Regions from separate parts of the Homo sapiens genome. Here region 1 is linked to region 2. The links come from fine-mapping of genetic effects on gene expression. A gene starts in region 2. The other region holds a variant in brackets. All regions are shown on one strand. Distances are from middle to middle.

The links. PIP is the estimated chance that this variant, and not a neighbour inherited with it, causes the effect.
Region 1: its variant is the best candidate, but not a certain one, in a credible set for the expression of CRB2 in uterus (GTEx, PIP 0.74).

The regions. Positions count from the first base shown.
Region 1 is chr9:123,374,555-123,378,792 of GRCh38, forward strand. It overlaps CRB2 (crumbs cell polarity complex component 2), which reads left to right. Exons shown (of 13, transcript NM_173689.7): 11 at 25-141; 12 at 663-789; 13 at 2,284-4,199. The coding sequence ends at 2,508. Among named protein-coding and RNA genes, the nearest start is that of CRB2, 20 kb to the left of the region's middle. RefSeq lists enhancers at 1,150-1,768, 1,769-2,386. The variant C/T (reference allele first, on the strand shown) is at 2,085.
Region 2 is chr9:123,353,613-123,357,850 of GRCh38, forward strand. CRB2 (crumbs cell polarity complex component 2) reads left to right here and starts at 2,585. Exons shown (of 13, transcript NM_173689.7): 1 at 2,585-2,742. The coding sequence starts at 2,649. RefSeq lists silencers at 406-515, 536-585 and enhancers at 548-1,047, 716-885.

The DNA.
Region 1 (4,238 bases), 21 kb after region 2:
CTCCAGCCTCTGCTCTCTCCCCAGGTTGCCTGTCCCATCCAAGGAGTGCAGCCTGAATGTCACCTGCCTCGATGGCAGCCCATGTGAGGGTGGCTCTCCCGCTGCCAACTGCAGCTGCCTGGAGGGTCTTGCTGGCCAGAGGTGGGTCTGGGGGCCTGGGAACTGTGAGGAGGTCCAATGAATGTGGAGGGCTGTTCCTCCAGCCAGGGTGGGGCGGGGGTCCTCGCCCACCTTCTCACCCCTCCCTGGTATCACAGTCACCATTGTCACTTGAGTTTCCTTCCATGACTCGCAAGACCATCCTCTGTGATACAGACTGCTGCTGGGCAGTGGTTGCCTGGTGGCAGTTCTGGAAACCCAGCCTCAGCCCGCCTGTGGGAGACCATAAAAGTGCAGATTCTGGGCCCTGCAGACAGTGGCGTCAGCGTCTGGGGCACCTGCCTTCACACAGGCTCCCGTCACCCTAATGGGATGAGAGTCCTTCTCAGTGACGGCTGCTCAGGTGGTCACCTGGCAGGGCCCAGCTGGGCAGGAGCAGCGCATGGGGACAGTGGATGGATAAGCTCTGATGCTTGCTGAAGTGGGGATGGGCAGCAGAGCAGCTGGGAGCACAAGAGGCAGCCATGGGGGAAGCCGCTTTCTCAGCCCCCCTCCCTCTCCAGGTGTCAGGTCCCCACTCTCCCCTGTGAAGCCAACCCCTGCTTGAATGGGGGCACCTGCCGGGCAGCTGGAGGGGTGTCTGAATGTATCTGCAATGCCAGATTCTCCGGCCAGTTCTGTGAAGTGGCGGTGAGTGTTGTCAGGGGTGAGGGGCCGTGGACGTGGCCTGCTGGGCCCTTGGCGAGATGCTGCTGGGGAGAGAGCGCAGCACCATGGGGCTGTTCCTGGGCCACTCTGTCATGGGGTGGGGCAGTGAGAGGAGCCTCAGGTCCCTTCCACACCCCCCACACAAGAGGTATTTCCACTGCAGGGAGAGCTTTGGGGGCTGTCACCGTCTATTGACAAGAGCACAAAGCTCCTAGCTGGGTCAGCGGCTTCCTCAGAGTGCCCAGGGCAGTGGCAGTGAGGACAGATGGTCTCTGCCAATCCAACCAGGACTCAGGGCCATGTTGGTGTTCTGGGATTTAGGTTGGTGAATCCAGGAGACTCATCTCCAGGGGTTTCTGAGCCAGTGTCCTGAGTAGGAAGACACGGAGGGGCAGGGGGCCTGGGAGTCCGCACTGGAGCAGGCTCGGCCCGCTGTGCAGGCTGGCCCCAACCCCGGGTGGCTCAGCCCAGGAGGAGCCTGGACAGACGAAGGCAGCAGGCGCTGGAGCTGTGAACCTCCCCGCCACACCCCTTCCTGGGGCGGGGTGGGGGGAGTGGGTGCTGGCGAGGAGAGGCTTGGAAGGGAAGTCTGGGGAGCAGCCTTGATCTCTACAGGCTTCTGGCAGCCTGGGTCATAAACCACAAATCCCCTCCGCTTACGGGGAATGTTTCCTTTCAAGTTGAACTTTTACAGCCTCTGGCTTCCCTACCCAGCCACCTCCCCAGGGCAGGGGGAGGAAATGGCTTTACAGCTCCTCCCTCAAAATGTCCAACGGTGGAGGCTGGCAGGACCCTCTCAGGACCAGAGGAACTTTCCTGTCAAGTTTTAGGACCCAGGTCACAGTGGGCTGGGAAGCCTGGAGGTACAGAGGGAGGCTGGTGAGTCCCAGAGCCCATGCCTCTGGAATCCTCGCATCCTGGGACTACAGAGTCCCAGGCATGTAGAGGCTTTGATGGGGAATCCTGGGAGCCTGTGACTGGAGACACCAGGGAGGTTTGCTGGGCTCCCCGAAGCCTGGGCCGAGGCTCGCAGGGACAAGCTGTCATAACAGCCCCTCGGCCCCCCTGCCACCCTGCCCCCGCAGGTGGGCCCCAGTGGATTCTGACCTTGCTATTGTGGCAGGGGGCCGCTCAGCCTGCCCCTGCTCCTGCTCTGCCTCATGAGACCCTCGTAGGCTTCTGTGAAACCCATGCACCCTGCTTAGCTCCTGCCGGGTGTTCAATAAACGCCCATCTCTGTCCTTCTAGCCAGAACTCCTTTGTTGTATAGGCCTCCC[C/T]GAGCAGTGGCTGTGACAGGTGGTTTCCTGGCACTTGCCTGCATACCCCTGGGGCTGGGTCTTCACTGCTCCCAGGGCAGCCTGCTCCCAGCTCTGATTTTCTCTGAGTAGGTCCTTGTGCTGCGCTCTCTGCTCTCTGAGGGCCCCGGCGTCCTCCCCTTCTCTGCGGTCTTAGGCCTCGGTGTCGTGTCTCTTGCAGAAGGGCCTGCCCCTGCCGCTGCCATTCCCACTGCTGGAGGTGGCCGTACCTGCAGCCTGTGCCTGCCTCCTCCTCCTCCTCCTGGGCCTCCTTTCAGGGATCCTGGCAGCCCGAAAGCGCCGCCAGTCTGAGGGCACCTACAGCCCAAGCCAGCAGGAGGTGGCTGGGGCCCGGCTGGAGATGGACAGTGTCCTCAAGGTGCCACCGGAGGAGAGACTCATCTAGGCCAGCCTGGCTGCTGGCACCAGCACCTGGAGGTCCTGAATGGTTTCTACCTGGAGACCCAAGGAAGCTGCTTCCAGGGCTCGGGACATTGCTACGGAAGTGTCCCCTTGGCTGGCAGCCTCTGCCTCTGCCTCTGCCCCATCCTGGATGGAGGACGAGGGGAGCAACTCAGGGAAACAGAGGCCTAGAGAGGCTGCGGACTTCTCCATCCCACCCTCGGGGTTCCGCCTTGGCAGGTGTACGGCTGTGCGTGGGAGGGCACACGTGGGTTCACAGTGTGTTCAGGAGTGTGTGTATCTGGAGGAGTGTGTGTGTGAGTGTGTACCTGGGCCTGTGTTAGTCTGCAGATGCTAGTGTGAGTGTGTCCTGACATGGCTCCAGGGCGTGTCTGCCGTGTTTACTGTGTGTCTATGACTGTGATGGGTGTAGCTGATCCCAGGAGGTGGCGGCTGCGCCATGGGGTCAACCATTACAGTCCTAGGGCAGGGGCGGCCCAAGGCTGCATGTTCTCCAGGAGGCCAGGCCGGGGTTGCCCAGGCACCTCCTTCCCCGCCTCTGGGGGCTGCTCCTGCTGTGGAGGCAGCTGGGAAGTCAGGGAAGGCCACTAGCAGAGGCTGAGTGGGCTTCTGGCTCCTAGAACAAATGTCCCTTCAGGCAGGTCTGTCTGCCAGAAGCCAGAGCCAGTCATGCGAGGGAACCACAGACCCACCCGCCCCCTCAGCCGGAGCAGCCCGAGGGAGCAGAGGAGGGGCTGCCTGGAGCTTCCCACCCTGCTGTGGTCATTTGTCAAAGGGGGAAGGCACCCACTGCCTACCTCACAGGGCTGTTGTGAGGATCAGAGAGGACGACAGTGGGGAAAGAATCTGGAAGTCTTCAACTGCCGTCTGATGGGAAGGACCGTCTGGGTGTCCTTCTGGGATGAGGATGACAGAGCAACCCTTCTCCTGCCCTGAACCCCCCCAGCTCACCTGACCACCTCTGGTTCTCCAGCTCCGGTCCTTCCTAGCAGCCTGGTGAGCTCACTCCTTCCCCTGATGACTGGCTGCCTCTACACAGACTCGGCGAGAGGACTTGAAGGAAGCCCTCTGGGTTGTCTGCTGAGTACAGGGGCTCAGTGAACACTGGCGCTGCCTCTGAGTCGGGGCTGGGCCTGCAGAGGCCGACTCAGAGGAGACTCTGCTGCTTGCTCCCAGCCCCTTCCCCGGCGATGCCCATCACACTGTGACCTCCCATCCCTGAAGGGCACCTGCCTGAGGGCCTGGCCTCCTTCCAGCTTCATGGACCTGGAGATGTGCCCTTTCATCCTTCCTGCTTCCCAGGCCAGTAGATCCGTTTACACTTTTGGGTCGACAGTCAGCTTTTCCTTTTGGTTTTGGCGGGTCCCAGAGGCATGGGTGTCCAGTCCAATGTGGGGAGCCACGTGACAACGTGGGGGACTGGGACATGGGACTGGGAAGTCAGCAGACGCTGGGATAGAGAGGGCCCTGAACACCAGGCTCAGGGGCTTGCTTGGTCCTTATCCTGTAGGAGGTGGGACCACCTTTCCCTGAACTTTCTCTACAACCCTTGGGAGCGTGGGGAGGAGGCGGCTGGTTCCAGGGTCAGTTTACTAAGTTAGAGATTTGGAAAACCTGTGTCAGCTGTAACTCCTAGGATATTTTATGTGGAACCTAACATGCAGATGAAAGCTGGCTGTCCCCTGTCCTCTTCCTGGCTCCTGTGGGTTCGGG
Region 2 (4,238 bases):
CGGATTCAAACCCAGGTCTGCCTGATGCCAAAGCTGGGACTCCCAACCACTGAACCTTGCTGTCGCATGTGCCCATCAGCTTGAGAGTTGGTGGGAATCCCGGCCCAGGACAGCGTCCCCTCAGCCAGGGAGGTGGCAGCAAGTCATGCTCAGGCTAGTGGAGGGGCAGTTAGTAACCTGCAGTCGGAGGTTCACCAGTGGAAAGGCTGGAGTCGGGCAGACCCAACTCGAATCCTGCCAGGCACTGGTGCTGGGCTGCTCACCTCTCTGTGCCTCGGTTTCCTCATCCATAGAATGGGGCCAATGCTGACTTTGCAGTGCTGCTGGTGGGTGGGGGGGGGGTAAACTGAGGTTATGTCGATTCCCTTCCCAGGTGGGGAGGACAGGGGAAGTGGATGCACCTGGGGGACCATCTCAGAGGAGCTGGCCCACTCTTACTGCCTTCTCCAGATCCGGACCAGGGAGCGGTCAAGATGGTGTGCCCTTGTCTGACCTCCGTCCTGCCTGCTGTCCAGCGACTCCCTGGCTTCCTCCCCGTCACGTGGGACTCCTGTACCCGGTGCTGTCGGGGGAGCCCCCCTCCATACCCTCCAGACCTCACAAGACACTTCCAGGTCTGGCCACAAGGTGGAGTGTGGCGGCTGCAGGACAGTGCTGGGGGCCGGGCTGCAGAGGAGACTGGACCTGCGCCGGGTGACCTCCCCGCTCTGTGAAAGTGTGGGAGTTTGTGTCTGTGCATCCAGAGAACCAGAGGGTGGTGGTTGACTTGCCGTGCTCCCCCCAGCCCCCCATTGGGATTGCCTGGGTCTCTGGGGGATCACTGAGAAGCTGGATAAAGAGAGCTGGCACTGTCGCCTTGGCTCACTAACGCCACCATTTTACAGGTGAGGAGACTGAGGCCCAGAGAAGGAAGTCACGTGCTGAGGTCACCGGCTAATCAGTGGCTGAGCTGGGCTCGAACCCAGATCTCTTACGCTGTGAGGCCTCTGCTTTTCCTGTGGCATGGAGAGGGGCTTCTCCCACCTGGGGAGAGGGATCCTGTTGTATTGGAGAGGCAGGGGATTAAAGATGGACTGAGAGAGGTTAGTGTCCCAGAAACCAAGGGGCAATCCCTGCCCTGGAGAGAACAGGCCTCAAGGGCAGGGATGGGGCAGGGGCAGTGGATAAGGAGTCTACCCAGGCCTTTTTGGGTTCCCTCCTTTGGTCCCTGGGGACCCAGGGCTGTGGCACTTGCCCCGGGCTAGAGGGTCGGCCAGGGCCTGTGTGGTGCCCACTGCTCCCTCCCCTGCACTGCAGGGGACCCTTGCCCATCCCTCTAGCTCATCTGGACCTCCCTCAATGGCTCCTGCTGTCTTTCCAGGCTGTGTCCTCCCGTGTCAGGGACACATCCCAGAGCCCAGGGCCTGCGTGGGCTGTATCCACGGTTACTGAATAGGGACAAACAGGCATGTATTGGCAGGGGCCGGTGGCTCATTTCAGGAAAGTCCCTTCAGCAAGAGGATTCTCTCCCCACTGGGGCTGAGGGTGGTAGAAGAAAGGAATGTTGTTCTATGTTGTAGTGTCTCTGAGATGACCTGGCTTCCTGAACCAGGTCCCCCTGAAGAGCTCCTCCTGTCCACCCCAACAAGAGGCCAGCTGGAGAGCAAGCAAACATCGAGTGCAGCAGGAGACTATAAGGTTAGACAACAAGAAGGACTTCCTGGCAGGGGAGAGCAATGCTTGCTTGGTTAGAGCTGCCTTTCAGTAGAATGGGCTGCTTTGGATTGCAGTGAGGTCGCTGGAGTTGCAAACAGCAGAGCCAGAGATCAAGGTCAAGTGGAAGAAAGCTGGGAAAGGTTCAGTTTGGCTGGTGAAGGGTGGAGAGGGTAAAGGGAGGCAGGGACCACCGTGGTGCAGGGGTGAGGTGCCCTGCAGGGAGCTGATCCTGAGGCCGATGGTGGGAGGAGCTGTGTGTGGTCGGGTGGGACGGGGTGGGGACAGCAGGAGACACTGAGAAGGTGGCATGGCCAGGAGCTAGGGGCTGACCGAGTGTGGGGAGGGGGGAGTGGGGAGGGGGCGTTGGGCTGCCCGATGGGAGGTGCCTTGGCTCCGATGGGAGCACTGGGGAGCAGCAGGTGGGGGGACGAGCTGGGTGGGAGGGGCTGCAGCTTCCCAGCAGAGACAGGGTCTGGGAGGCGACTGGACTCGAAGGCCTGGGCTTGGGAGAGAGGCCCGGGCTGGAGAGGTGGGGAGGGGGATCCAGGAGAGGGGATAACTAAGGACTTGGGAGTAGCTGGCATCACCTGGTGAGACGAGAGTCCTGAACAGCCCCCTCTCCAAGGACAGAAATTTCTCCAAGGAGGCTGACCTGAGAGGTGGGAGGAGAGTGGGGCAGAGGGTCAGGAGGGAGAAACCAGTGGGTGCCAAGACCAGGTCAGCCCCACAGGCTAGGGGGCTTGAGGACTTGGGGCTGATGTCTAGGGACGTCCACGAGGTGGAGCAGCCCAGGAGGCCTGGGTGGGAGGAGGAGGCGGTGGCGGGGAGGGGAGGGAGGGGCTGGGCCTCTGTCCACAGCATTAGTGCTGGTTGGAGGGACGAGGGGGGTGCGGAGCCAGCCAGGCCGCCCTCCCGTTCTCACAGCAGCCGAGCAGAGCGCAGAGCGGGCTGCCATGGCGCTGGCCAGGCCTGGGACCCCGGACCCCCAGGCCCTGGCCTCTGTCCTGCTACTGCTGCTCTGGGCCCCTGCCCTTTCCCTCCTGGCTGGTGAGTTGGGGCCCATGTCTGGAGGGGCCTGGGAGAGGGTCTGTCCCCCAAGACAGATACCCCAAGCCTTGGCTGCTGGGGTGGTGGGTGGGCTGGTCCGCGTGGGTGCAGGCCTGAGCTGTGGGGTGCACAGGAGTGCGCGGCTGTGGCCCCCAGACTCTGTGGGGCTCCACGGAGGTGAGTGTGTTCTGAGGCTCGGGGCTGTTTCATGTTGAGGGGGGTTGTAAGTTTCGGGGTTGGGGGATCGGGGGCTGGGCATGATTTGGGGGAGCTGATGCGGGTGAGGGATGGGGTGCGTGTTTTGGGAGGTGCTGTGTTGCATCCTGTAAAGGGCTGGGGGACTTCTGGGTTTCTAGGGGCTGAGTTTGGGGAGTTGCAGGTGGCATAAGCCTCACCCCAGAGCTTGTTCTGTGTCGCATGCTGGGTTGTGGGGCACAGGTTGTGGGTGTGTTAGAGTTGGGAGGTGGATGAGCTGTCTGGGGTGAGCCGTGAGTTGTGTCCGAGGAGTTGGGTGTGGTGAGCTGTGTCCTAGCACACGCTGTGGGGTGTAGGTTGTCCAGGGTTGAACTAGGTCTTTGCTCTCAACATGAGGGGTGTGGGATGTGCACAGCCGACCCCAACTCGGGACTGAGTGGAGAAGCGTGAGGGAGACTCAGGGAGCTGGGTGCCTGCCCGCACCCCTCCATTTGTGCGGTAGCCCTGCCTGTGCTGAGGGCTGCTGGGGATGCTCTGGGTCCCTGTGGGGTGGCTGGGGATTTGGGAACATGTGTGTGTCCCCTGCTGCCCCCTCCCCAGCATTCCAAGGCCAATCTGAAAGGGCTCCCTGAAGCCAGACCACATTTGCCAAGCCCTTTTTGCTTTTGTCCAAGCTCTCGGAGCCTGGAATTCCTCCTGGGGGGTCCAAGGGAACGCTTGGTGTTAGTTACTATAGTTACAGGGGCCGGGCCTGGGAAGTCCCCTGCCCCCACCACCACAGGCTGGGGAGGGAGCCAAGGAGGGCCTGGGCTCTCCTGAGGCTGGGGGAGCCCTCCCTGCCCCAGAGCTCCACAGGCTGTAGGGTGTGGGGGCCAAGTGTCTCCCAGTCCCACCTGGGGACCCTCATGTTTCCCGCACTCACAAAGCTTTCATTTCCTATCCTCTCTATGGGGCCCTAGGGAGGATGAGGACCCCATTTTGCAGTGAAGGAAACCAAGGCTCAGAGAGGGACGGGGACTTATGAGCTGGGCTCTGCTGGCAGGCGACTTGGGCTCCATAGAGGGGTGGGGCATGGTGGCGGGGGGCGGGGTGGCTGCTCCTCTCTGTTCTCTGCATACAAAGCACGTGAGATCCCGGTCTGTGGATCGGTGCTCTGTCCCCTGCCCTGTGATGCTCACACACCCACACTCCGCACACCTGTGTGGCATGCCCAAGGGCACACAGCACCACAGGGACAGGTGCTACAGACACATGTGGATCTACCAGCACATGCACCTACCTACACACATGGCATGTGCCTG